Linked DNA regions of Homo sapiens: region 1 is linked to region 2. The links come from fine-mapping of genetic effects on gene expression. Tissue or cell type: whole blood. Region 2 holds a variant in brackets; the other region holds the start of a gene. All regions are shown on one strand. Distances are between the middles of the regions.

The links.
Region 1: it holds the start of PAG1, and the variant in region 2 is fine-mapped to the expression of PAG1 in whole blood (TOPMed, PIP above 0.99).

The regions. Positions count from the first base shown.
Region 1 is chr8:81,107,773-81,120,828 of GRCh38, reverse strand. It overlaps PAG1 (phosphoprotein membrane anchor with glycosphingolipid microdomains 1), which reads left to right and starts at 8,761. Exons shown (of 9, transcript NM_018440.4): 1 at 8,761-9,238. RefSeq lists a silencer at 8,626-8,755 and an enhancer at 9,246-9,315.
Region 2 is chr8:81,068,208-81,085,171 of GRCh38, reverse strand. It overlaps PAG1 (phosphoprotein membrane anchor with glycosphingolipid microdomains 1), which reads left to right. Exons shown (of 9, transcript NM_018440.4): 2 at 15,002-15,060. Among named protein-coding and RNA genes, the nearest start is that of PAG1, 35 kb to the left of the region's middle. The variant C/T (reference allele first, on the strand shown) is at 6,745.

The sequences.
Region 1 (13,056 bases), 38 kb before region 2:
AGCACTGTGGGAGGCCAAGGTGGGCAGATCACGAGGTCAGGAGATCGAGACCATCTTGGCTAACACGGTGAAACCCTGTCTCTACTAAAAATACAAAAAAAATTAGCTGGGCGAGGTGGCAGGCCCCTGTAGTCCCAGCTACTCGGGAGGCTGAGGCAGGAGAATGGTGTAAACCCGAGGGGCGGAGCCTGCAGTGAGCAGAGATCGTGCCACTGCACTGCAGCCTGGGCGACAGAGCGAGACTCCATCACAAAAAAAAAAAGACGTAGGATATGTAAGCTTGACTCCCAGAAGCCTGCAGTCCAGCAGGAAAGAAGGGGTACATATATTGAAATTTGTTGATTAGTACATTGACCATCAACCTACATGTGCAGATTGACTGATACGGACATAGTCACCTGATATAATTGCTCTCTTCTTCATCTTGAGATGTTGATGCCATTTCTGCTCTGTGTTAATCAACACTGTAAATAGATGTCACAAAAACATGGTGTATTTTTAAATGCACAAAGAATGTAATCTTGTGTTCCAACATCAAGTCGCTCACACCAACTAGATGTCCTACGATTCAATTCAATTCTGACACTAACTACCCGGAGTGAGAGTCAGCTCCCACAAGTTAAAGAGCAAGGTTCCTAATGAGACTATTCTTAGTTCAGACACCAGTTACAAGCAGGGTCCCCAAACTACCTGCAATTCTGTCTGACATGGCTACAATTTTGGGGATTTTCCTATGACCCCTCTTCAGTTTCAATAATTCACTAGAAGAACTCATGGAATTTGGGAAAGCACTATCCTTATGATTACTGTTTTATTAGAAAGGATACAAATGAGCAGCCAGATGAAGTGATACAGATAACAAGGTCTAGAAAGGCACTGAGTGCAGGAGCTTCTGTCTCTGTGGAGCCAGGAGGACACATCACCCTCCCAGTACAGCAACATCTTCACCAAACAGGAAGCTTCCTAAATCTCCATGTCCTGAATTTTTTGTCAGAATTTTATTGTGTAGGTATAACTGATTAAATAATTGGCCCTGTGATTGAACTTAATCTCCAGTCTCACTCCTTCTCCAAAGGTTGGGGGCAGGGTCTGAAAGTTCCAACCTTCTAATCACATGGTTGGTTTCCCCCATTCATTATCACAAACTCAGGTACAGTCCAAGGAGGTTAATTATGAATAACAAAAGACATTCTTATCACTCTGGAAATACTAGGAGTTTTGAAACTCTGCTAGGAACCAGAGACAAAAGCCAGATATGTTCTTTATTTTATCACAAATGAATATGAATATTGCTTTATCAATTCTTAATAATATTAACACCTCATTTCTAGTCATTTGTTCTATAAACATTCATTGAGCAGTATGTTAGATTTTTTTGTCTTACAAGGATCAGGCAATGAAAAGGAAAATTTACTTAAGGATATGAAGGGTCTGGAAAAGCATTACGTTGGCTGGAATGCTCTGTCTGTCTTCCATTGGATCTCTGCCTCTCCCTGTGTATCTGTCCCATTTTCCTCCCTAGACTGTTCAGTCCATTCCATATTCTCTAGTCCATATTTCAGAGGAAGCTAGTGGCACAGAGATGGGTAAACACAATGACTGACATGACACTTCTCATGTCAAACAACCTGCTATGAAAGGCATTGTAGGAAGAAAAATGTCCTGCCTGGCTTTCTGCTCCCCTATCATCTCTGCTTTCATAGATGATCACCTTTCCTCCAACAATAGACTCAGTCTTTCTCCAGGCTCCAGGTTCAATCCTGTCCCTTGTCAGTGGGAGGTGGATACTGAAGAATCCATAGCCCAGAATTCAATATAAATTAAATATTAATATAAATAATCTGGTTCACACCTCATGCTTCTATTGTAGTAATTAGAATTCAATTTTTGTTCTTGGGATCAAGCCTTCACCCTGTAACTCAGATGCAATAAGTATTTAATATATAACTAGATAAGCTTTGATAATCTGCCCAATGCTGCAATCCAAATGGGATTAGGTGCTGAATCACTCTTTGGATGTTAGTTATCTGTCTTCCTCCACAAACCTACACCTCTCTCTCCAGTCAACATGCTCACAATCAACGTCATAAGCATGGACATGAATAGAACCCTTGTGATCACGTACAAAATAACTAGAGAGTTAAGGAGCGGGAGAAGGAGAGAAGATACAAAGAAGTTTAAAACTTAATGCCTGCCTTTGGGAGCTTGCTGTTTCATTGAACAGCAATACATACACTGATGTCCTTAATTCAAAGCAGTTTAGGAGAAGTGCCATGTGGATGATCCAGACAGTAGGTGTTACAGATGTTCCCAGGAGGAGACACTCTTCCAGCTAGGATGATCAAGATCAACTTCACAGATGTGGTGAGGTATGAATTAGGCACCTGAATGGGCAGTATTTTGAAGGACAGAGATGGGAGAGGAGGATTTGAATAAAAAAACAGCAGTAAAACAAAAGCAAGAAAGGACAAAGGGAAATGAATCTTGGAATAGTAAAACAGTTTGACCAGAGAAGAAGATTCAGGATGGGGTGTAGTGAAAGATAAAGCCGATGGTAATCATTCCTGTATACCCAAAGGCTCTTTTAATCAAGAAGTCCAGTCATGTATTTTCAGAAAAAAATTCTGATTATTAATATGAACAAAGCAAGCTACTATGAGATTGCCTATAATTGGGCTCAAAACGGTATAGTCTAGCATTTTCTGAAAAAAATACTTTAGAATGTCACTGTATCTGATTGGATACTGAACATTCCTTGAATAAATTATTTGGACTGAGTGTGTCAAAGGGAAAGATAAAATATTTTAAACTGCTGTTTCTGGCTCTACAGCTCAAAATAATGTCTGTTGGACTCAGCTGTCCCCTTGTATATATAAACAAAACAACCCTTACTCTTTGTTTCTTTTCTAGCCAAGAGAAATCAGGTTCCCATGGCTTCAGACAGCTGTCATGCATTTCCCTGACTGCCGCCACATGTGTGTTAGGCTCTGCAGATCATTACCAACGCCAACATCTGGCTCTGCTTGCTTTTTTTCAAAGAAGAGTTTAATTTTCCTCTAAGTTTTCAGAAACAGGAAATACCACGTGCACTTCAGTGGAATTTGGGATTAAATATTTCTAAAAGCAACTGCTGTTTTTACAAGACCTTTTGGAGTGATCGCTTATTTTATGGCTTTTACCTCTGGAAATTCTTTTTTCTCTCTGAATTGCTGTGAAATCTCCAGGGTCCCTTGACTTTTTATCAGACTGCAATTGTGCTTTTATTCATCCCCCAAAGAATTTGTTTCAGACTCTGCTGAGGGTCTGACCACCAGCCACACAAGTAACATCTCAAGCACCAGTTTTTGTTACCTGTTCAGAACCACAGGTTTGACCATTGCCAAGTGTATGAAAACTCTGGGGAGCCTGCATTCTCACTAGCACTCACTAGCATTGACCATCAACCCTCTCTAGAAGGTGTTCTCTTCTTTGGGAGTAGAGAACAAAAGAAGAGAATTCAGCAGAAACTGAATGCTCTTCAGAGGGAAGTAGGAATAGGTAAATGGCTGATTCTTTCAGAAAATAATTATGTTATTTTGTGGATACTGATACTATTTTCTGATACTATTATCCCCATTTTTCAGATAAGGAACCTTATGCAAACTGAAGAAGAAAGCCATGTAAACAAAGAATAATCTTCCACTTTTAATGGGCTTGTGGCTCACAGAGAAAGCCACTTTCTGCTGAATTTCCTCTTCCTGTCATCTGTTGTAGCTATATAACAAGAGACAGCTTCCATTTTAGGGAGAGTACAAGACTGAGAGCAGAAAAGTCTATTTGCTGAAAAGGTGTTGAGAGGGCGGGACTGGAGGAAGATGTATAAAGGCAAGAAATGACAGAAATGCTTTAGCCACTATAAGTCTTTCACATATTTCTAATGTTGGAGATGGCACAACTCACTTCTTTTGGAATTGAATTTCAAAATCTTCCTTTCTCAATGCTGAAGTTTTGCTTGCTGGCAGGCAACTGGTTGGCTACTAAGGAAACACGCAGTTTTCTCTGATGCCTGCTTAAAATATGTTTATAAAAATTGTATTATATTGAAGTGATAAAGGCAGAAGAATTAAAAGTGAGCTTAAGGAATCTCTACCAACATTCTGAGTATCTACATCAGTTTTACAGGCACACATCTTGAGTGTTGATGTCAGGATAGAACTTTAAGGAATGTGTAAGGTCAGGATGACAAAGGACAATGGAAATGTCCATTCTCAAATCTGTAATATAAAGGCATTTCTTTAAAGCACTCTATTTTCACTTTTATAGCTACTGTCTCTTGCCACCATAATTTCTTTCTCCCGGTAGAAAGATATGAAAATGTCAAGTCCTTAAGCCTTGACTTTTCCTCTACAGTATAGTGTGAGGCTGCAGAGCTACATTAGTAGGTTTTGCCCTGATCTCCCTTGAAAGCCTTTTCTACACGATTCTCCTGTCCTCAGAGGAGCCCTAAAGTCACTCTTAAGTCTTCTGATGGAGAAGGAAAGTACTCTCTTAAAAACTACAGTTCATCATGGTTTACATTAAAATGATAAAATAGACACTAAGAGATGTCTAGTTTCAGATTTTAACTCTAGGAGAGATTTTGTAAAGCCCACCACTAATAGCTAGCATATTCGGAACCTAATATGTGCTTGAAGCTCTTGTTACTGTGTATTAGGTAATCAAAGATGGCAGTCACGTGATTACAGCTGATGGATGGAGATGCTGGGAGTGGGGGCCAGACAGCCTGTGAGGTTCGCACTGTGCAGCATGGCCTCTCCCCCAGCTGCTCTCTCCTTTTATTAGTGGGCAATTTGGTTGGGAGGGAGGAAAAAGTAACTCTTAGAGATTGAAATTGAGGGTATATTTTGTAGTAGTTCTTTAAAGCATCTATCATGGGTTTTAAGGAATTTATAATCTATTTCTTAACCTCTGATCCCTCTTTCCTATAGACAAAGTCACACGTGGAATCCTCAGCACTTTAAGTTCAGGTAAGCTGTGAGTTGCCAGCAGAGTCTTGATTGCTTGCTCTCTAATCTTGCTCACAGGCCATTGCCCAGTCTTATCTCAGAAGCTGCTGATACTCAGTCTCCACCAGCCTTTGCTCCTCAGCAACCAAAGGCCACTTCCTGCCTTCCTTCTTCCATCCCTAAATTCCATCCTGTCCCAGCCCCCGACCCCATTCCTGCCTTAGCCCAACATCCCTACCCATCACCTATTTCTTCTCAGGTTCAGGGTTATAATTAACACTCTATTAGCTTTTTTTGTTGTTAATAGAGACTTAAAAAACATTATGGAGCTAGCCTGAAAATCCTGATTATTTATTATATTGACTGCTCTAAATTGTAAGTGAGATAACTTAGACATGAACATTTACAATGCAGGCACGTCGTAAGTTTCCTGCATTAGGGCAAGAATTGGGCTTTCTAATACTTTTCTAAAGTTTCTCGGGAAAGAAGACAGGACCCTAATCTCCCCCAATCCCATCTACACCAGGGATTCAGTGATGGTTTCCAGTGAAGTTATCAGCTGCTGCATGTGTTCAAACAAGGCAAACTTTGTAATAAGCCATGTCCACAAATCAAGCACAACTTGTATTAATTTTTATGGCAAGCTTATTTTTCACCAAGTGGCATCTAATTCCTTCCTCCCAACTGTCTCACTCTTGCTAGTCACCTTGGACTCCCCACAGTTCTCTTATCTGGACTGTGTCTATGAAGTAAGTGAAGATTTTCATGTCAAAGAATCCCTTTGAGTGAAATGGATGAAGAAATGTAATTAATAAAGGTGGAGAATTTTTGAGCCTAAGCTTTCCAGCTCAGTTGGTAAGCCTGTGATTTTTAGCAGAAAGACTTTAATAAAAATCTATCCTAGGTACAGTTTCTGCATGAGGGAAGAATAGTTTCAGTGGAGTCATTAGTGTCTATATAATTGAATATCTCACTACTAGGACTTTTAGAGGCATTGAAGGAAGGAATTCTCAGCCAAAGAGTAGGCCTTGCTGACCCATAAGGAATACAGACCTCAGAGAAAAAGATGTAGCTGCGATTTCTGCCAGACAATCAATAGCAGCTGATGTGAAATAAATTCTAAATACAGACACAGTCAATATCAAGACACAGTCAATATTAAAGCACAGTCAATATAGTATCAAGACAATATTATATATTTCATGTATTTAATGCCAATAACAATGGTTCAAAATTCAATAGCAGTAGGACACACCAATTAATAGTAACTTTTTATTTAATTAAATCTTGGATCTCTTGAAATCAATATACAAATGAATTATGTAAATATTTTGATTGAAATGTCGGGCACCTAAGAAAACAATGACAACTTTGGGTTCTTCTAAAGGTCCCAACATGACTATTCTGCTACCTTCATATTTAAAATATATATATATTTCTTATTAAAAACTGAAGTAAGTTTTACAACCTGTGATGTACCAGCTCCTTCAAAGAATTCTTTTTTCTTAGGAATTAATTTCATAATCACACCGAAGAATGGCTGTAATGGAAGAGTTAGATAAGAAGTAAAGATAAAGGCAGGTAGACCACAGTTGGCAGTGTAGCATTCCCAGTCAAACCTCTGGATTAGAAGACTGTATATAACTATCACATACTTGCTTCCAAAACATTACTCAGACCGAGAGTATAGCCCATAGCATCTACCACAAGCACAAGAATTGATCCTGACACTTTTGGTTCTCTATCTAGGAGTGGCTTTGAAATACATTTGAGTTCCAATTTACTGATGGCAAATCCTGATATGAAAAATTTGGAAATGAAAAACAATCCTCAGCATGTTACTTGGTGAAAAGAGAGCAGAGGAAAAGGACAGAGGCTAGAGATTGGCTCCTGCCTGCATTCGTGAATTTGTCTAAATCACTTAGCTTCTGAGCCTGGGTAAAATGAGGATGGTAATTACACTTGTCACCAGATAACGTGAATATTGCCCTTCAAACTCCTCAATGAAGCCTGCACTGTGGAACTGCAATGTCCTAGGACCGGGTTGCTCTTAGAACATTTTGTTCTAAGTGTATCCTAACAAGTGTAGCAAAACTGGAAGACACAAAATGTATTTCCTCCCCACAAGAATGAAAGCCTTCCTAACTCCAAATTTAGGCACAGCCTGTAAAAGATGTGACTAGTAAACACAGAAACCATTTGCTTTATAAGGTCTAAATTGTCCTCTTCTCCAGAGTTGTAGAAGCCAAGTCCAACACGGAGATCCCTACTTTTATTCAAGTTCCACCATTAGTCAACTCATGTCCAGGATGTCTTCTTTAATATATAAAATGGGGATACTTTTTTATATTATTATTCAACTTAAGAGACCACTGTGAAATTTCAGTGAGGTAACGTATGTGAAATGTTATACTCCATAAGTTCTTAAACACCTGAGTTTCATACCATGCTCTGAAGCAAGAGGCCAAGTCTGGTTCCTGGGTCCGCTTCCCCAATGGGCTTTTCCAAGCTGTAGGCTGAGTCTAAACTGTTTCCTCCCACATACCCTTCCCTCTGCGACACACTAACAACATCCCTTACTCCATCACTGTCTTCCTTACCCTCTCCTGATGAGCCTTCTTCCCCAGCCACCTTTAAGCTCCCATTAATGATATGTGTAACGAGTGTTCAATAGAGTGTGTGTGTGTATATTTAATGCCATTTATATGTTTTTTCTTGCTAAGTAATGCATCATAATTTTAGAAAATTGGGACTAGTCAGATAAAGCACCCGTTGGTTTAGAATCCCTGACTCAAAGTCAGATGTCCTGAGTTCTAGACTTGGTTTGTCTCCTTGTAAGTGCAAAAGTTTATTCCCAATTCCAGGTTGCTAGTGTAAACTTGAAGTTTGGCCCAAACAAAACCCCTATCAGATTTATTTAGAGTGTTGATGCCAAATGGAATTCTAGAAGCCCACCTTTGCCAGGGGCTGAGCCAGAACCACTATCACTGGGGGTACGGCCTGGGCATTTGTTCTGCGTTTTTTATAAGCCCCTCGGGTGACTGTCAGACAGGCCAACTGTTTCAGAAGCTCTGCTCCAGGCTCTAGATCACACGTTAAGTAGCAAGGATGGGGGTCTGGACCTCCAGTATTGGCATCCTCCGAGAGCTTGTTAGAAAGGATGTCTCCCTCATTATCCCAGGCCTACTGAATCTGAATCTTGCATCTCATCACAATCCGCAGGAGATTCTGTCACACACTGAGGGTTTGAGAAGCACTGCTGTACCTTGGTATCTTTAGATACCTACTGATACCTGGGTGGGCCCCACCCAGACATTGTCCTGTACTTGTTCTGGGATGCGTCCGGGGCAAAGGGTTCTTACAAGCTCCCCAAGTTATTTTAATGCACAGCCACAATAGAAGATCACTGTCCCCCAAATGGCAACCCTTTACGGTTAAGCTGTAACCTGAATTAAATTGGCTTTTGTGGGCTCCCCAGGGACCTTAAGGACCGCTTAAACGGTGCTGTTTAAAGGACAATGGGCTCCTGGGACAAGTTCAACCACAGAGCTTTGGGTTCATAAAATCAGGGCAGGGAAGACTTCCTGCATCCTCCCGCGAGCAAGCCAGGCCCCGCGCCGGTCCTCACCCGTGTGCACCCCCAGCCCGGCCCCGCCCGGCTCGCCCCCTCCCGCCCCGCGGCCCGCCCCTCCTCCCCCGTGACGTGCCGCTGCGGCCAGGATCATGCGCACTCGCGCCCCGCTCCCCGCGCGGCTGCTCCGCCTCGGCGCCTGTCATTCTCCGCGGCGCGGCGGCGAGTGCTGGCTGCGGTACCCTCCCGCTCGCTTGTCCGTCTGCGCGCCCGCGATGTGACCAGCCGACTGGGGGCGGGCTGGCGGCTCTGCCTGCGGCAGCGCATCGGTTTTTCTCCTGGCAGGTCCCTAATTGAGCCGTGATTCCCTTGGAGCCAGAGACACCCACCAGGGGCTCGGAGCGCCGCGCTCCGGGGCTGGAGGCAGCTGCAGCGCTCGGGTCCGCGCGGCCGGGTGCAGTAGCCTCAGTCCCAGCCGCCGCCTCGCTGAGTCGTGTGCCCTGGCGAATGCCCGGCGCCCGGCACAGCTGAGCCAAGGCGACTGGTGCAGAGCGGCGGCGCCTGGTCCTGCACTTGCCGCTGCTGCCGGGCTGTGCCGGGGCGGCGGCGCTGCGCGCCGGAGTTTGCAGAGGCTGCCTCCGAGCGCCGTCCGCCAGGAAGACTCCCTGCCTCCTGAGTCCCAGTAAGTTGACTGTAGTTTCTGAAGTTGGAGGGAGCCGTGGGAAGGAGAGGTTCGTTTTTATCTTCTTGTGGGAAGCCGAGGGTGGCACCTCTTGTTAACAGAGTTCCAGCTCGAGGAGGGAGTGCGGGGTGCCAAGAAGGGGACAAGGCAGCTGGAAGGTCTGGAGTCCAGGGCTGGCTGACCTCAGCATCTCACGAATGTGCCAGTTGGAAATATGCTGGGAGAGGACAGGTACTCCTAGGGCATTTCGACTGCTGCGTGCTAATTATTCATTCCAAGCTCCTTGACTCTGTGTTTACGTTGGGGTGAAGGGGCTGGGCAGGGTCTTGTCACCTCCATCCTAATTCCTCTGGGGAGTGTGGCCAGCACTGCGATGGATCTTTGGGCGAGCCATTTCTTTCAGGCCTGCAGGCTTCCCGCGCATCCCGCTTTACTCTTCCCCTAGGCAGAAGTTGCCAACCTTTTCATAATTGGAGCCTAGTCCTTTAGGGAAAAAACAACTTATATGTCGACCCGGTGTTTTATGCCCTAAGGCAAATAAAACGAGCTCTGGGCGTGTGAATTCATACACTTTAAGAATGTAGGCAAGTCTCAAGAAATAGGATTCAGATAATGACACTTGGATTTCACCCTGATTGTCCTGCACCTCTTATGTAAGCCTCCCGGCTGGATAACTTTATCTCTGCAGTGGCTGCAGCTGTGGCCCTCCATTCCATTTGTTTAAAGTCCAATTGAACAGTATTTACTGAAAATGCTGACATGATATAGCGGCCTGAAGTCTGAAACAGAGTGCACTCTTCAAATTGGAGTGTCTTCTCCTAATAGGGAGCATGGGAGGAACAACCCACTATATTTTTCAAGGCAGCTCCAGGAATTAGACCCATAAATCATGTTTTAAAATAGCATGCATTGTGCAGAGAGCATGCAGAGGACCGCTTTTTGAACACATCCCCTTTGTTTTAGAAAAAGTGGAAATTGTTCATGCCAGACAATTGTTGAGTCTAAAAGTTAAGTGTACTGATGGGCCTAATTATCTTAATAAACAAAGAGCATGATTTATAGGTAGCTGCAGTGCCCTACTTTGAAGGATAGAAATCTTTAACCTTTCTTTCTCAGCTGTTCCCGAGAGATTCCTTTTAAGCAGAGCTATGGATTATCATCATTGATGTTTAATACCTGAGTTGGTTAAACTTGTAAAAGGAATAGTACTTTGAAGTACCATGCAGTACTGCTGTGTGACTGTTACACAGCGAATATTATAAATAAGAGGAATATTTGGAGTATTGGGTATAGATGTCATTAGTTTAACAAAATAGGTCATATTAAGACTTTCCTGCTAAATATATATACACATACATAAATGTTTAATTTGGACTTGAAATTATTGTTTAAACCAAAGCTCAGGGGTATGTTTTAATGTAAGATTTATTTACATAATCTTTGAAGAGAGAAGTGCATTTATTTATGGTATTTCAGCATGCAGAACAAGATGAACTAGTTATAGGCACCTTATTTAAAGTGTAAAGGGTTTTTTTTTAGGAATACTAAGAAAATACACAAAATGTTATTTCAGAAGTTGAAAAGTTAGTCACATCAACACATTGCGGTTTGTGAGAGCATCCAGTGCTTATCTCTAGAAGAGATTACATCCAAGCATGGAATCTCAAACAGATTGACCCATTAAGCCCTATTGCAGCCTGGTTAGGAGGACAGGCTATGGAGCCAGGCTGCCAGCTCTGGTACCATCTGTTTGAATCTAGGCAAGTAACCCAAAGTCTGTGCCTCAGTGTCTTCATCTGTACAATGGGGATGACAGTAGTAGTACCTACCCCACTGAACAGTAGTGAGAATTAAATGAGTTCATAGACATAGAGCTGTTGGGCCAGTATCTGGCATATTAAGCTTGTTCTGGGAAAAATTTTCATTGTTATGAAAGGAAATGCATCTTTGGACTCTATGGACATTGAATTGCTGCTATGGACATTGAATTGCTGCTGATGAATATTAACAGAAGCAGTTCATGTGTATAATAGGAGAGAAGGTATAAACATTTATTGTGCACTGTCTAGCGATACAGACACCAACTGGTATTTAACACTGTCTTGCTCAATTCCCCACCACAGTCCTTTGAGGTAAGTGGCTTCATCTCTACTTTAGAGATGAGAAAATGGGAGCTCAGTGAGATCAAATAGTAGAAATTGGAGCTGGCATTTAACCCACGTCTGTCTGTGTTGAAACTGTGTTCTTTTTGACCCTGCTGCCTCAACTTGCAAATGAAGTAGTTGCATTATTATCCTCAATTTATACATGAAGAAATCTAAGCTTAAGGATTAAAGTATGCAAAGTGCTTAACAGCACCCACAACAGAAATGATCATAATTATTGTTAAATAACTTGCCCATGCTTCCATACCTCCTAATGTGTGGTAGAGGTGCCAGGTCTTTCAATTTGAAGTGGATTCTGTTGCTTTATTATTTTTCTATTCATGCATTCAGAGAGTCAAAAAAGAAAAATTGGTGTGATGTTAGAGTTTACACTGGAGGGTGGTGGTCTCCATTTGGTTTCCTGCCTGCACGTGTAGCTGCAGCAATCTACACAGTCAAGGAAACCACCACGGCAGCAGTAATCAATCCACAAACAGCGTCATCCCTGGATATGCATTCAGTCCCAGCTGGAGAACTCCCTTGGGCAGAGAGAGGCCTTGCACTTTGCCTCATATTAAACTGCATGTTCAGAAAAAGAAATAATTTATACTTACCATTAAATAAGCATGCTTCCTTCAAGCCTTAGTACCCCATGTCATGGGAAGCAGATTCCGGGGTGCTGTGTGAGCAGTACTTCCTTTAAGGTTTCCATAGCTTGTTAGACTTCTCAGCTGGGTTCCAGAGGTGGGGAATGATTGAGAGGTCATGGCATTTTTGTGGCTGTGTTAGGTTATCACCCAAATACTAGATAGTGTTCTCGCCTTTTGTAAGTCTTATTTCTAGAGATTAAAATCTAATTGCCGTATAGGGCACATAGACCACAGACTGCTCACAGTCTGATTTAATTTAAATCACAGACTGATTTAATGTTTAATGAAATCTCTTAGCTAATGTATGCTAACACTGAATGGTGCTTCAATATAAATGCTCAAAGTTGGCTTTAAAAAAAAAATCAAAACTCTTCGAGAGTTCTACTCTTCCTGTAGGCTGCCTCCATGTGCCTGGGGACACAATACCATAGTTGCAAAGTGCCCAAAAGAGCCCCTGCCATTGACTGAGTCATCTCACATCTCTGAATTATCTTCTGTTTCAACTTGAACCCTCCTTTTCAGAGAACAGATATTCCCTTTTGCTTACTTAATAGTTAATTTCAAGTGTTCCCCTGCTCTGGGTTGGTTATTCTATAGTAAAAGTCTCCCCTGATCACTTTTGTGACTTGAATGAGGTTCATGATTTATTATTAACTAACTCCTCAGAATATACATATAGTTGTTTCATTTCTCATCTATGTTATCTGTTATCTATTTAGTGGCTTATCTGTGTCACTTTTAAATCTCTGAATAATTTTCTTCTGACATCCATCAAAAGATACATGTAAAAGAAATGCAAACTAATTTTAATATGGATATAAATGAATGAAGACCATTGACAGTCATATGTACTGTTTTGAATTTTCTTCACTTTGGGCTTGAGGAGTTGGGAGCTGATAGTTCCAGAGCTCCTGCCTCATGCATTGTGAGAGGCACATTGGGAGGTTATACAAGTTATACACGCAAGCAGTTCATGTGCAGCCCCGCAGAGACAGCCCCTGAGGGCTCGCTCATTGCTGAGTTC
Region 2 (16,964 bases):
CCATTTGCTTCTAATTGGCACATGGAGCATAAAATCAGAGCCCTGATTTTTCTAAGAACTATTCCAAGTAAAGGCCCAACAACCATCTTAACTCAGAGCTACTCCTAGATTGTTTTAAAGTGCGTTCATCAATTTGAAGAGTATTTGTATTTATACATTTCTTGCCCTTCATTGTATCTTATTTGACTCTGATACTTTCTCTCAAATTTCTTAACAGTAACCTTTCATGTTGAACTGTAAAAAAAGAAAACGGACTTCATCTTAATGTATTTCACATAGATTTCCATTACTTTTCACTGTGTTTTTGCCACTCTGTACATTTTGCTTATAATAAAGGGTTGGTTAAAGGAAAATAGATGTAATTTTTGGCACTTGTCTGCTCTAATATCGTGACTGACACTCATAATGTACATCCAGTTCTCTTAAATCCCATAAAAAGCCATTGGGAAGAAAATTTTTGAGATAATATAAATATAATCTTACGTAAGACCTGTGTAGCCACTTCTTATAGACAGCTTAGGAAAGAAAGAAGCCTTCAAATAATTACCAAAGTAGGAAGAAAACTAAAAACCTCTCGTATTAAGGGTAATAATTGCAAAATGACACCCACATAGAAAAAGTCCCTTCCTTTCATTTTCTTGAAATATATTGAAACAAAAAGTTAACTAACATCATTTGGGTACCTTTTGAGAACTTTAAAATATATTATTTTAAAATTGATTTTCTTAAGGGTTAAATACATGGTTTTGAAGTTTTTCTTAAAGTATTTTGAAAGTATTTAAATTGATTTTATGTAAACTTTTGCTACTATTGGATGCAGCCTTTTCAGCATAGCAAATGCAATGTCCTTACTTAATGAGGTTTCTAATTTTTAACCTCAAAATGAAATGAAAAATTTGTTCTATTTCCAGGAACATGGAGTAGACATACTTTTCCCTGTTCTTCCCACTAAGTACAACTAAAATTCCTAGACATTGTTCATAAAACAAACGTAAGAAGACTCTGAAAGGTAGAGGAAAGATGGCAGAATATCTATAGACCTCAAAACCCAAGCAACACACAATAGTGAGTTACCTGGCTTTTCTTCTTTTTGAGTCGTATTTCCCAGAGCTCACATATTCCCTTTTTTTTTTTTCTAAGATGGAGTCTCGCTCTGTTGCCCATGCTGGAGTGCAGTGGTGCCATCTTGGCTCACTACAACCTCCACCTCCCAGGTTCAAGTGATTCTCCTGCCTCGGCCTCCCAAGTAGCTGGGATTACAGGCATGCACCACCACGCCTGGCTAATTTTTATATTTTCAGTAGAGATGGGGTTTCACCATGTTGGCCAGGCTGATCTTGAACTCCTGACCTCAAGTGATCTACCCGCCTCAGCCTCCCAAAGTGCTGGGATCATAGGTGTAAGCCACCACACCTGACTGAGATCCCATATATTCCTGATGAAGAAGGCAGCAAGTGGAAAACACCAACAGGCACATACAAAAACAAATAAGTAAAAGATGAAAATCTGTTTTCTGAAACCAGAGGACTAGAAAAGGTAGAGCCTAGCAAAATGGAAAACTTTTAGATAATAACTGTTGTACTCTAGCCAAGCCCCACAGAAAAAAAAATGTGGCCTCACCCTACCAGCAAAAGCTGATAGGGAAGCCTAAACTTCCACCCTTGCCAGCTCTAAATTGAGAGCTGGGGTGTCCCAAGGCACCCCAGCCCTCGCCACTGGGTAGTGTCACAGAAAACTGAGTAGGGAGCCAAGGCTTTTATTTCTGCTGCGTAGTAACAAGAGCCTCCACCTCAACCCCATGTAAGTAGAAACCATATGCGGAACCTGGGTTTCTACCCTCCCCAACTCCTAACAGTAATGAGGAGCCCTTTTCCTCTCCAACTGGGGTGGTGTTAGTGGACATCATGTGGGAACCAGAAACACTGTTTCTCCCAGCCAGGAAGTATTGTTGGAGGCCCGATGGAGAGCCAAAACTCCCACTCCTAACTAGCAGTAAGAATGCATCCCCCTCAGGTATCAGGGGAGGTGTAGTAGGGAACCTGATTCTACCCCAGTAATCAGGATGAACCAGCAATAATAACACAGTCTCCCCATTCCCTTCTGGGAGTGGTAACAGAGGAAGGCAACTAAAATAGAAAGTTTAAGTAAGATCCAAAGTCTCATAACATAATACCCAAAATGTCCAGGTTTCAATGAAAAAAAAAATCACTTGTGATACCAAAAACCAGGAAGATCTCACACTGAATGAAGAAAAAAAAAAGCAGTCAACAGAGGCCAGCACCAAAATGACAGGGATGTTAGAATTGTCTGCTAAGGATTTTAAAACAGCCATCATAAAAATGCATCACTGAGGAATTCTAAACATGCTGGATGCAAATGAAAAAATAGAAACCTCAGGAAATAAATAAGAAATATAATGAAGAACCTAGGGGGCATCTTAGAACAGAAAAATACAGTAACCCAAATAAAAATCTCAGTGGATGGGCTGGACAACAGAATGCAGGGGACAGGGGAAAGAATCAGTAAAGAGAGAACCATCAAAATTATTTTGTCTCAACACTAGAGAGAAAATAGAATAGAGAGCCTCAAGGACCTGTGGAACTACACTTGACATTTACCATTTGTGTCATTAGAGACCCATAAGAAGCATAGGAAGAGGGAGGGGCTGGAAAAGTACTTGAGCAATCATAGCTGAAGACTTGCCACATTTAACAGAAGACTGAAACCTACAGATACAAGGAGTTGAGTGTAGTAGGCCAAATAATGGCTCCCCCGCCAATGATGTTCATGTCTTGATTCCCAGAACTAGGGAATCAGGTTCCTTTTTTCTTTTTATTTTTTAATGTAGTAAAAGGGATTTTGCAGAGGTAATTAATTTCAGGATTTTTTTTTCTTTTCTTTTTTTTTTTTTTTTTTTTTGAGACAGAGTCTCACTCTGTTGCCCAGGCTGGAGCACAGTGGCACAGTCTCGGCTCACTGCAACCTCTGCCTGCTAGGTTCAAGTAATTCTCATGCCTCAGCCTCCCGAGTAGCTGGGACTACAGGTGTGTGCCACCATGCCTGGCTGATTTTTGTATTTTTAGTAGAGATGGGGTTTCGCTGTGTTGGCCAGGCTGGTCTTGAACTCCTGACCTCAGGTGTTCTGCCTGCCTCGGCCTCCCAAAGTGCTGGGATTACAGGCGTGAGCCACCATACCCGGCCAAGGATTTTGAGATACAGCAATATCACTCCTCAGCATTTAATCCCAGAGAAATAAAGTCACATTCTCACAAAAACCTGTGTATTAATGCTTATAGCAACCTTATTTGTAATAGTCAAAACTGGAAATAACCCAAATATCCTTTAATGGATGAGTGGCTGAACAAACCGGTACATCCATATCGTGGAATACTACTCCACAATAAAACAAAGGAGCTATTGATATATGCAGCAGCTAGTGTGCATCTCCAGAGAGCCATGCTGTGTGAATAAGCCCAATCCCAAATGGCTACATGTAACATGACTCCATTTATATAACATTCTTTAAATGATAAAGTCGTACAAATAGAGATGAGATTCACGATTGCTAGGAGTTAAGGATGTGGTAGGGACAGGAGGGAAGTGGGTGGGGCTACAGAAGGGCAACATGAGTAATACTTGGTGATGGAAATGTTCTATATCTTCCTTCTATCAGTGTGTTTACCTTAGTTGTAATGTTGTAATATAGTGTTGCAAGAAGTTACCAGTGAGGGAAACTGAGCAGTGGGTACATGAGATCCCTCTTTATTATAAGTAACTGCTTGTGAATCTATAACTATCTAAAATTTTAAAATTTAATTTAAAAAATAACTTTTAAAAATTTCTTGTAGCTACATCAATTTGAAAACACAATGCTATATCATATATAAAGAACTTTGCATGTCCAAGTTCAGAAAGATGTTAGTACGAAGTTGCCTCTTCTAAAGTCTGTTTTTTTTTTTAATTTGTTTGGAGATTGGGAAGGAAGGCAAGGGATTCTGTTTTATCAATCATATATGTTAAAAAATAGATAATATTTGTTAACTCCTAAACACCGTGTGAGGTCAGCATTATTGTAAAGAAGAACACTGAGACGCAGGGAGGTGGAATGATTTGCCCTGATGAGTAGTGAGGCCACATTTGGACTGGACAGTCTGGTCCCAAAGCCTGCATCCTTTCTTACTGACTATACTCTTTGGCCTATCTGCATAGGCTATTAGTATCCAAGTATCTTTCCGCAGCAGGACACTCACCTCAGAAGTTTTAAGCACTTTTCCTAGGTCACAGAGTCATAGCTGTGAGACTGAAATTCAAGACTTTTCCTATCAAAATCCCATCCTACTCCCACCTGGGAGAAGCCATATTCCAAATGGCCCTCAGACCTGATCCTCAAGCATATTTTGTTTGCTCACTTAGTGCTGGGCAGTAGATTATTCTTTTTAAATTTACATTAGCAGTATATATTTAAACATTGTGAGATATGTAAAAATCCAGGCTTCTAGCTTCTCAGGAAAAATAAGAAAATCTGCCAACACTGGGTGTACATTCTCAAATTCTCTCAAAGGAGTTAGATATAGGATGTTTAGGGACTGCCTCTTACAGCCTCTTTAGATGAGGTTGTTTGCCTCAGTCCTTACCACTACTTACCCAGAGACCACAACCAACCATCAGCTGGTTTTTATTGTGCAACACTGTTGTTTTTCTTACAGTAGAGGAAATGCCTCTACCCACCTAGCTACCAAATCATGGCTTTTATGTTTTACCTTTTATCTTAATAATTTGGGTGGTTGTATTCTTCCTGATTATAAACTACTTAAAGTTCTATTTCTGAAAATCTCCATTATTAGTGGATTTGCAGTTGTTAAACTTAAGACCCCCATAGAATTGAAGGTGCTGAAATCACTAGTCCATCTACGAAGGCTAGTCACTAAAACGAAATAGGCATACATGAACTAGAATATATCTCCTTCAATACTTCTTAAATTAGAAAATTATGAGTATTGCGCAGTCACTGTGTTCGTCATTACAATTGCTTTAACATTCCTTTGTAAAGACTTTCTAGTAGTTTTGCGGAGATTCAATGAGGTGCTTATAAATTGATTTTGTGCCAGGTGCAGTGGCTCATGCCTGTAATCCCAGCACTTTGGGAGGCCTTGATGGGAGGATCACTTGAGCCCAGGAGTTTGAGACAAGCCTGGGCAAGATGGCAAAACTCAACCTCTACAAAAAATTTTAAAAATTATCCGGGCATGGGGGTATGTGCCTTTAGTCCCAGCTACTCAGGAGGCTGAGGTGGGAGAATCACTTGAATCTGGGAGGTTGAGGCTATAGTGAGCCATGGTCGTGCCACTGTACTCCAGCCTGAGCAACAGAGCGAGACCCTGTCTCAAAAAAATAAATAAATAAATGAAATAAATTGATTTTGCTTCATGGCATGCGATACGCATAATAATAATAATAATAAGTATTTCTTCTGTGTCTGGCTTTCTACTGAAGTATTTTCAGTTCTACAATTCAAGGCCCCTCCACCCCTATTGGTCTTTCTCTTAAGGGGCCCAACTCTGAGTGTCTCTCCTGAGTCTCATATGCTCAGTCTGAAATAGTTGACCAAGTAGGAAATGGAAGTAAAGAATTTCACGGAAGGGGAATTTGCCATGAGGGAAGGGTTAATAAGTTATTCCTGTTGATCGCCTTTGTAATGCCTAGCACATTCTCGTTACAGAGTAGACATCCAGAAGTGAAATGATTATGTTTGATGCTGAACTCCTAAGTAATTCAATATTGTCTGAGGATAATAGTCCTGCAAATTATATTACAGTCAGAAGTGTTTTTGTTTTTGTTTTTTTCCAGTCGAGGAGTAGATGACTGGAGGCTGCCTTGTTTGCGTGAGTGGTGTTGGGATGACCTTCCAGGCTGGGCATGTGATTCCTGAAGAAGTGGCTACTTGTTTGGCTCCTATATCAATGCAGAAATTAGTGTTTGAGCTGATAGGAAGTAAGGGGGGGAAATCAAGGAGTGGAAAGGCTGCTTGGGATGGAATCTGTAGACTCTTTCTGTCTGACCTCTGGTTGCTAATCTATGTTATTGTTACTGGAAGGGGAGGCCTGCAAAGGTTGAGTCCTGGCAAGGATATCACCAGAGCAGGAGATCAGTGACTTCTTAGCTTATAATTCCACTGTAGGTGAAACTCTAGCATTTGCAGGCAAGATGGAAGATAAGGAAGTGGGTGAAGGGGTGAAAAATGAAATAAATATTGAATAAAGCGCCTGTACTCTGGAACCAGATTGTGCGTTTTTAGTTTCTGCCTCACTCTGTCATACTATTGTGTAAGCTTGAGCAAATAAGTTATCTCTGAATGCTTCAGTTTCCTCATGTGTAAAATGGGAATAATAATAGTATTTACCTCATCGTGTAAACAGCCAGTAAGTAGCAGCATCTCTGCACTGGACAATTTTTCTTTTGTCAATTGCTCTTTTTATTCGGTACCTACAGTGTCATCTAAATAGCCTGTCCCTTAGTGTATGGAGTCAGGAGACTAAGAAGAAATTTAGGGAAAATAAGGAAGGATAAAGGAATAATAAGCAAGGATGAAGGATTGCCTGCATTTGAGACCCTTGTCAATGTGTGTTTTCTCCAAAGAAAATGTGTCTCTTTTCCAAAGAAACATAGATGTGTCTCTTTGGAGAACTTGTTTCCAACCTTAGATGATTTTTCAGATTCAGTCTGTGTGCTAAACTCAAATCTTCT[C/T]ATTTTCTAAGTACATCTGTTCATGACTTATAATATGTTAGGAAGGTATTTTGCCCTGGTGAAGAAGGACTTAGTTCTTATTCCTACTTAACTAAGGGATAGAGAAGAAAAACCTTCAAATTACAATGAAATTGATTGACCTCAATTCTTTTTAGATATTTGTCTACAAAATGTCTTTAGTAATAGGTTTTAATACTTTTGCAGTTGATTTTACTAAACAGATTAAAAATTTAAGCCCACTTAACCTCAATAAACAAGTATATGAAGTCACATACAACTAAGTACTTCAAACCCAGAAACTCTGGCACTGAAGGAGATAAAGTAGCAGACACCTTCTGTGTATTTTCCTACTTCTGTACCTCAAGACATTTGCTGTGTACATTTATAACAATGGCCATGTCGGAAATAATATTTTTGGGTTTATGGATTTTTATTGATCTATTTCATTTACGTGGGTTTGATCCCAAATGATGGGATGATGTTCTCTTATGAAGACCATGCCTTGAGGGAAAGGAGAGTGCTTTTAAGTAAGCCTGTTCCCTTCTGGCTCTCTTTGATAGGGTGGTCTCTCCCAGGGTTTATTTAGGAAATGATGGAACACAGGTCAGTCTGTCCTTGTCTCTAACCAATCTAAACATTTTGCTTTCAGCAAAATTTACATATTATTTTCAAACCTTTACTCCACATCTTGCATTATTGATTTGATTAATCTCTGCTGTTTTTAAGGCATATCTTCTTCAAGACAGCATTTTTCTTTTATATCCAACAAATTCCTTTCAGATTTCTAAATGCGAAAAAAAAACTTAGTTGTGGACAAAAGTACAGCCATTCTCTTTACACCTGAAGAAATTAATGTTTTTTCGATAAAAGTCACCATATGTTAGGAGGGTGACAATTGGTATTCAAATGTGAGTGAGGAAAAGAATAAAGACTGAGGCAAACAAATATTACCATTATTGCAGTGTTCCCTGCAATCTGTGGGTTGTTATTTATTTACAGTTTTGTTCCTGTAGGCCCACAGAAGAGAAATGCAAGGAGGAGTACTCCTGAAGTAGAAGAGGCTGTAGAAGGTTGGAATAGAGAGCAACAAATCCCAGGTCAGGATGTGGAAGGGCTTACAAATCACTTAGGCTGTCTGGGTCCCAAACTTTCTCAGCTGTAAAATGAAGCAGTTGAACTTAATGGTTCTCTAGTTGGTGCCTCTTAGACTTTAATGTACATCCTGTTAAATGTGCAGATTCTGACTCAGTAGATCTGGAGTGAGGCCCAGGGTTTGCCTTTCTAACGAGCTCCTGGGGGGTGCCAATGCTGCTGGTCTGCAGATCACACACTGTTTAGCAAGCTCTGCACGATTTCTAAGCTCAAGCTTCCATTAACTCTACGATTCTATGAACGTGCAGTCAGCTGACATTTTAGAAAAGACAGGAAGGTTTCATGAAACATGCCTACCATGGTATTAACCATTCTCATTCTTCATAATCATCTTCATCAAAAACTCTTTAAGTGCCTAATTATGCATAACAGCTTCCCATGCTTTACAAAAGTATATTTGGTCTTTGCCTTATCAGACTTGACAACCTAAGACAGAGAAATATGTATAGAGACAGTAATAAATATTGAGGCAGTAATAAATATTGAGTAATAAATGTTCATCCAGATATAGAACACATTAAAATTTTTTAAAAAGTATGTACTTAGCATGGGCCCTAGGATATTTATTTTCTTACAGCTTGTCTTCCTTTCAAAATCTGAGAAACCAAAGAAGTTGCCCTATAATTTTTACATGAAAGTAAGAGATTTCTCTTTCTGTTTTGCAGATAGGGGTTGGAAATGGGAAGGTCAGTTTCTGAGGCTACTTTTAATGTTGTTGTTTGCTTTGTTTTGGCCTCACTGACTTAAAAAGAAATATTTTATCAGCCCTGAATGCCTAACCCTAATTACCATATGCAGGTGCCTTGGCTTGACTTTGTGCTTCTCAGCACTGTGTGTGTACATAGGCTTATTAAATTAGCGTCAGCTCCTCCTACCCAAGGACCTCAGGCCCATCTAGTCACCCTCACATCATCCTTGGGAAGCAAAGGAGGCAGAGCTAGACATTGTTATCTCTGAATCATGGGCTGTTAGGTGATACCAAGAAGGAAACTGGTATGTCCAAAGCCTTGTGATAATTCACATGGGAAGCTTTGGATTTGATTCTGTTTCTTCTGTACACATTTGCATTTGCTGAACTGACCTAAGGACTTGATCTGCCTTGGTGTGGGAAAGGATCAGATAAGAAGTCATTGCTGGCATTTTCTCTTGAAAGCAGAACAGGTTCTGTTCCCGGAGGCCAGGTCACCAACCAACAGAGATTGTGTTCAGGTACCTGTAGTGATAAGCCAGTTTGTTATAACTGTATCACAGGTTAGCAGAGTGATGTCAGGATGGCTCATTTCATTGATTATTGTAACTTAGCAAGAGCTACAAGAATTATCACAGATCTAGAAAATGGTCACATCTAAGCAAGGGTCTCTGTATCAGATATTTACCAACAGTGAGATTAGAGACCCTTGTTTACACCTTCTCAACTCAAGTAGGCACATATAATATTTAGTAGTGACTATGTGTATGCTCAGAGATGCGGGAAAGCGGAGGGAGCTGTGTGTGCCACGCTCTTGGGCTTCAGCTGTGTGTTATCTTGTGTGTGTGCGTGAGGAGCTGCTGTGGAATCAGGTGCACTTGGGTTTGAAACTTGGCTCCACCACTCACTGGCTGTGTCACTTCACATTTCTAGGCCTCAGTTTCCCCATCTGTAGGATCAGTGTAACAATAGTATGAATCCTTGTGAGCATTAAGTAAGATGAGGATATATGGAATGTATAGCATGGTGTCTGCAAATAGTACTTGATTATTAGTAATCATAGTAAAACTCATACACGACAGCATCTGAAATTACTTGTCTTTAAAGAAGTTAGAGATTCTTAATTATTTCACATGCAAGTGTTTGTACAGGAGGTAGTGTCTGGGTTCATGAAAATGTCACACTCATTTTATTATGAATAAAGCTTTTAAGGAGGCAAAGCCTCCATTAACTAGACTCAACCTCATCTTTCATGCTAATGTCATACACAACTGTTTTCTCTTTTTTATAAAATTATAAAGAGGCAAGTCAGTCTACTCATACTAGAAGATACAAAACCCTGACTATTATATAGCAGGAAGCTAAACTTCTAAAAAGCCACAAATGGCAATACTATACATTTTGCATTAGGGTCTTGGAATAGATCTATATGGACACATGGAATTACACAGGCTGAATTGAGGACACTAAGTATCTGGTTGCCTTCTCTCTGGCAAACGAGAGTGGAGATAGGTACCTGGTTGCAGGAAGTAAGGAGATGCTCTTTGCCTACAGACAGTGAGGGAAGGCTAACCAGCATTTGGAGGGGCAGCGTTCTTTGGGAAATTGAATTTTAAGCCTGCTAACCATATCATAAGACTGCAAGGCCTGGCAGAACAAGAGCATGAGGCAGCTGGATAGAAACCCAAGAAACCAAAATGAGCGACTTAAAGTGGAGCTGTTTGAAGGGGAAACAGAGCCCCAGGGAATTTCCTAACCTCAGAATGCTATTCACTCACCCTTTTTTATAGGGTGTCTGTGGCTTCTGGTTGCCTGCAAATTGAGCCAGCATGGTGCAGATGTGACAGTGGTTTAAGGCTGTTTTTCCCCAAATTTAGTGTGAATCACCTGGGGGTCTTATTAGAATGCAGAGTCTGATTCAGTAGATCTGAGGTAGGGTCTGAGATTCTGCCATTTTCAGCAAGTCCCCAGATACTGCAGAAACTGCTGGTCTGGGACCATACTTTAAGTAGCAAGTGTCTAATCCACTCTCTCCTCAACCATTTCATCCTCTGATCACCACCTTCTGTCTTCTATCCCCTGTGCCTTAACTCCAACCATTTGTGGCCCACCAGTACTCACCATCCAGTGATCCTGCTAATTTTCCTTGTCTGTCACCCCCTCCAGTTCTCCTTTCCTAGTTATCTAGCTTAGATTCCATGATCTTGTGTTATAATTATTCTTTTGCATCCACCCTCAGGTTCTTTGCTGCTCCCTCTTCCCTCATGATCCTCACTGGCAAAACCCCAACCCTGCGTAACACAGCTCTCTCCCCACGCCACATCTTCACCTACACTGGTGAGTGCGGCTGAAGGAACACACATCACTGTGCTCACAGGTCCCACTTTCGTCTCAGTGGGTCCCTGTGCCGCTATTCTGTCCATTGTTCTGCTTTTCTGGATCATCTTCTTGTGTCCTGTCCTCAAACCTCAAATACCTCCCTCTCCATCCTCATTCTCAGCTAATAATCTTGCTGCCTTTCCTGGATCTGCCCACATGTCTGCACGTGTGCCCACACCTGGCCAGTGCTCCCCTCAGTGGGTGTGGAAGCACCAGGCATGCTGTAGCTCTCTGAGGGGTGCCCAAGGTGGGCACATGGAGGGGCCAGTGGAACCAGCCCCCTCTGACCTGCCTCCCCCCCACCTTCAGGTCTGTGCTCAGCTAACATTTTCTCAGTGCTGCCTTTCCTGACTCCCCAACTCAAAGCAGCGCCCACTCCCCAGGCAGTCCCTACCTCCACAGTGCCTCTGTGGTTTTCTTCAGTGATTGTCACAGCTATGCTGCTAGATGGTGGGTTTGTTCCCCACCTCCACTAGAAAGATACATAGGACAGGGAATTTCATCTTGGTCAATATCGAAACCCCCACCTAGAATAGTGGCTGACATATGGACATTCTCCTTAAAGAAAGTATTTGGATAGATACTAGCATGGGAGATGTGATTGTGTTTGGACAGAATCAGAAAAAGCCAACTAGGAAGAACTGCATATCCACACATGTATTTAAAAAGCCACTCCCGGTCTTTTTGAATAGACAAGGCTAAGGAAGATCCCTGTTCAGGGATACTTTTGGACCTGAATATGCTGAATTTACTAGAGATTGTTGAGCCCACCAGGCCCTTTGGGGATCAGGAGGGGAAAGGACCAACATCAAATTCCATCTGAGAATCCTGTCGCTTGTCTCATTTGATGCTCTCAGGGAGGTTGGTAGTGTGAGTCAGGATTTAACCACCCGACACTGCTCTGCACTCCGTAGCATTGTCATACTCACTTGGGACACTAGCAGAGCTGTAACCAGTTCTATTTTACAAATCTGCAGGCTAAATATGCCTAATTCGCTGTGGTTTGAGGAAAAGAGATATATCATGGCTATGCCTAGGACTCCATGTGGGCCAATCCTGATGAAAACAACCACAGGACAAGTTGGCAGTGGAAATGTCCTAAGATGGCACAGAATGAAGTTGATTGCCATGAAAATATGTTGTGCTGGTCATTCTCAAGGAGTCAGGCGTTCAGTCTACTGAAAGTGAAGGAAAGGCATATCTAGCAATACTTCTTATTTTATTTTGAGGAGTTCTGCTTTTAATAACATTGTCAGCATGCACTAAATCATTGTCTCTCAAGGTTTTGAGCAGCTGTGATGCAGAGGGAAAAGCACAGGGTGTTTTGTGCGTATTGGATGAGATAACTGACCTCATGCAGGGCTGAGAATACAACAGGTGCTTTTTACATGCACCCACTCCCTCATCTATGCCCTTTCCAATGGTCCCCATCCACACTACTGTTTTTCTGCATGATATGAAAGTTAAGATATAAATATGAGAGTATGTGAGTATGTGTTTGTGTTTAAGAGATGCCCTCACTCTGTCGCCCAGGCTGGAGTGTAGTGGCACAACATAGATCACTGCAGCCTCAAAATCCTGGGCTCAAGCAATCCTCTCACCTCAGCCTCCTAAGTAGCTGGGATTATAGGTGTGAGCCACTATGCTCAAATTATTGTGTTTTAATAAGTCATCATTCATTTTAGACCAGTGATTTTCAACATGGGGATGATTTTGCTCCTAAGGGGATATTTGTTGAAGTCTGGAGACATTTTTGTTTATTACAACTCAGGGCAGGAAATGCTAGCCCCTCAAAACAAAGAATTCTCCAGCCCCAAATGTCAGCAAGGCCAGGGTTGAAAGCCCTGTTTTAGAGCATGTATTTTACATTGGTGTTTATAGTTATTTCCTCATTGGACTCTAAATAAATGAAGGAGAGAATTGAGAAGGATGTGACTGGCTGAGGACACAGTGGGACAGGAGGTTGGAACAAGTTGGGGGACCCACCTATCAGGTGCCAGGATTCACTGACTCTTTACAAGCACACTACAGTTTCCAGCTTAAAAACAAGTGCTTTATTAGATATACTCACTAGCAGAACCCCAACCCTGCATAACCCAGCTCTCTCCCCACGCCACATCTTCACCTACGCTGGTGAGTGTAGCTGAAGGAGCACACATCTCAGTGGGCCCCTGTGCCGCTGGTCTGTTCTCTCTTCTATACTGGTTAAGCCTCTAAAGCAGATAGGGTGGCAGAAGCACGGAGGACTCAGGAGGGCAGTGAGCATGATGAGATGACACTGGACAGGCTGGGCACTGTGATGGGGAAATTGTCACAATGCCAGGGGCTTGGGTTTTGTCACAAGGGCTGTGGAGAACAAGCACGGATGGGGCCCTCCAGAGCCAAACTATCCTGTTCTTTTCTGTACTGTATTCACAACCTGTTCATACTCCTCTTATCCCTTGCGTCTCTCTGTATTGTGCTACTTACTTGTAACTTGGGCTCCTGAACTGGGCCTTGTCATCTTTGCCTTTGTGTGCCCCTTGTATATAGCACAGAGATTTATCAGTAAGTGTTTATTAAACAGATTTGGTGGTGTTTTAGACACCACTAGCAGCCTCTCAAAATAATTGTTTCTCCACTTTTGAACAAGTACTATTCCCAAATACTTGTTCCCAATGCAATTGTTTAGAGCTTGAAATGCATCCTCCTGGTTTTATAAATGATAGGTTTTCAGACTGGTGGGGAAATTTCCCAGCACCCACAGTGTTGTTGAGCCATAATGCTTAGTAGCCCAGGATGTGGGATTTCCCAGCAAAAGGCCAAGAGAAGAGAGTTTCCATTGCCTTTCTTCGTTGTGTGTGGACTCTTGGCAAGTGGGTTCTTTACCATTCTACTGCCTCTCTTGGCATGGAACCTTCTCTCACCTTCTACTGCACTTTTCTCTTGGTACTCATATTCAGGCGGCTCTTAGACCACATGGGTTAAGAGTCTGGGTGTTCATGTCTTGCTGGCCACTGTGGAGTCTGACACTGGAGCTCATGGAGGAATTACCACCTTGCTTATTGTCAGCTTGACTATTTGGTCTTTCAAATGTTACTTTGCTTTTCATTTCTTCTAAGAAATAGCTCTTTCTTTTCTCTTTTAAACTTTACCAAAAAAGAAAAGAAATAGCTCTTTCTTTTCTCTTTTAAACTTTACCAAAAAAGAAAAGAGGGGAGAGGAGGCACCAGTTTCCCCCAGTGGATATTTCTCCTGAGAAAATTCAGTCTCGTTATCAGGTTCATTCTTTAACTACCCATGCTTTTTACTTCCACTTAGCATATTTTCAGATGTCTACTTAGATGCACAGTTCTACAAAAACAGAATTTTCGATTTGAGATTACATTCCTCAAACTCAAATCACACTTATTCTTGGAGAAGTGATCTTTATAAGTGATAGTTTTATTTTTAAGCATAAGAAGCCATGTTAACAAAAATACAGCATATTTAAAGATGAAGACATTAAATAATATAGCTAAATATAACAATTATCACGTCTCTATACAATTTTGTTTCACCTTTTTTTTTTTGTGCTGAAAAGACTTTCATCTTCTTGAGGCATACAACCAATTTTGTTTTTGCTTAATCCATGTGCATTGCACATGGGCTCTAGGGGTCTGTGTTTGAGGTGTGCAGGTGCAGTGCTGGTGATAACTCCTAGTTACTGTTATCATTGGTGGGATTGAGTTAGAAGGCAGCAATGATTAAAACGAAGTATGGACATAATTTATTACTACATGCAATTAATGCCATCATTTTTACTTTTCTACATGTATAAAATTAGGGATAATGTTTAGGTCTGGATGTTTTAAGAGCAGGTTTTAGCTTTTGCTTTTTAACATTCTTTTATTATAGTATTAAAGCAGTAAAAGCTAATTAAATAAGCCTTTTTCAGTTGCTTACTGTTGGCCAAATGTTAAATAAGTAAATAACAAGATGATCATTTTACTCTTAATTGTTGCAGTTTTAATCCAGTTCAGAATTTTGAAATTGTTTTCTCTTGTGTTTCTTTTCCAGAAAACACGAGATTTTTCTCCTATTTCAGCAGTTGGCCACAACTTCATTGCTGGGAAAAGGTGATTTCAAAGTATTTATTTATCTGGTTTATTCTACATTATTACTCATTCAAACTGGCTTTTAGTTTAACTTTGCATGCATCAGTTGTTGATTTGGAGACTCTGTTTGGGTTAAGTCTGCAGACACACAGCTTCTAAGCTGAAAAACATCCAGGGAATGAGCTTGTCTGATTTGAATTTAGCAACTTAGGTCTTCTGCGATAGAAACCAAGACGCCAATGGGTATACTTCCTACAACATGGTGTTTCCCTTTGATTGGTGGTAAGCCCATCCATGGCTGAGCTTTGTAAAGCCTCTGTGAAGTTGGGCTAAATGCCTACTCTGTCTCAATCTCTTTCCTCATCTTTGAGACAGGGATAATAATTGGATAGTCTCATGGGCTTGATAGAGAGATTAATAGGATACACAGTGCTCACTGCCACCACCACCAAAAATATACGAGGCTGTGTTTTTGGTTATCATTATTCATGGTATTAATAATCTCATTTTGTGCTGATGATAAAGTTATGTTAATAATTCCTTAATAACCTTGGGTCATCTTCTGCGAACAGACCAAATGTGGAAAAATCATTCAGACTAAATGAACAGGTTAACACAAAGACATTCTGTCTTTTATTTTAGAAATTCATTTACTACAATGGTTATCAGTGTTTATAATGAATCCTGGACTTCGAAGCACTATGTCCACCCATTTGAAAGATTTATTTTACAAACCTCAAGTGTTATGGCCTGCCCGACTCATATTCATTTTAAATCATTATCCAATGCCTGTATGGCCTGGAAAGGAATTCATCTGGTCTAAGTTTTCCCAATCTCTTCACCAAAGGAATCTTGTAAAATAGGCCACTGTCTTTTAATTAAATCTTTGCTTCAACTTACTGAGAAATTCCTTCTCTTGCCAGAGTAACCCTTTCCTCTTAGGAGAGCAGGGAGCTATTTCAGGGTTATTTTGGTTCCCCTCTGAGGCCACAGTCTTTCTAAATATAACTGCAGATCCTGGAAATCAGCCTGCCTTTTGTTAGTTAACTTAGGCTAAAGAATCAGTGCATTAAGACCTTTGATTATCCACATTCTAAAAACGCCTTCCTCTGATCTCCTAATATTTGACAAGAATCTCGATTCAGGGATTAGACATTTTCTCTAATGCATTTCCATTTCCACTAGAGCTGCTCGCCTTACACACATTATGGCCTGAAATGTAGAGCATTTTCCGGTTGGGGGTAATGAAGATTTAACTCAAGAATCTATATACTTTAGAATAGGCATCACATGTTTCTGTAATAGAATCACATTCCTCCCAATTTCTGGAAAGCGTTGTGTGGTACTTTTTTGTACATGGCTGACTTCTTGAGTTTTACTCCATCTGACCCTCCTATAGAAGCTAAGCTTGAGGTCAATGTTTGTATCTTATTTTAGTACCTACAACATCTAATAAATGCCTGGAGCATAGTAACACACAGTGAATGCTCTAATTTCTTTAAATGAATATATCTCTGACACTAAAGAAGATAGAATTCATGAAAAGTAATTTATCTCAAGCTGAGCTTTTTTTCTGACTAGATATAAGCATTCTTCTCAACAATAATGCTTTGCTTGTTATTTTCGCCACATTAAAGAAGTGCCACCAAAACCAATTTATGTCCCCTTTCCCTCTTCTGCTGAGATCAGAACTAACATGGTGGCTACATTCTTTTGAAACTTGTAATTGTGTGTCATTTCCACAGTGGAAGTAGATTCAGACAGTATCTGCACCAACTTTAGTGGTAATAGTAGCGACTTTATGATGTTTTAATTTGAAATTCAAAATTTTAAATTGTCCCAACCCATTTTCAGGCTTCCAATGTGCCTGTGCCTTGGAAATGTATTTCAAACTTCCATAGTTGTTCTTTCCAGTTATTAGAAAC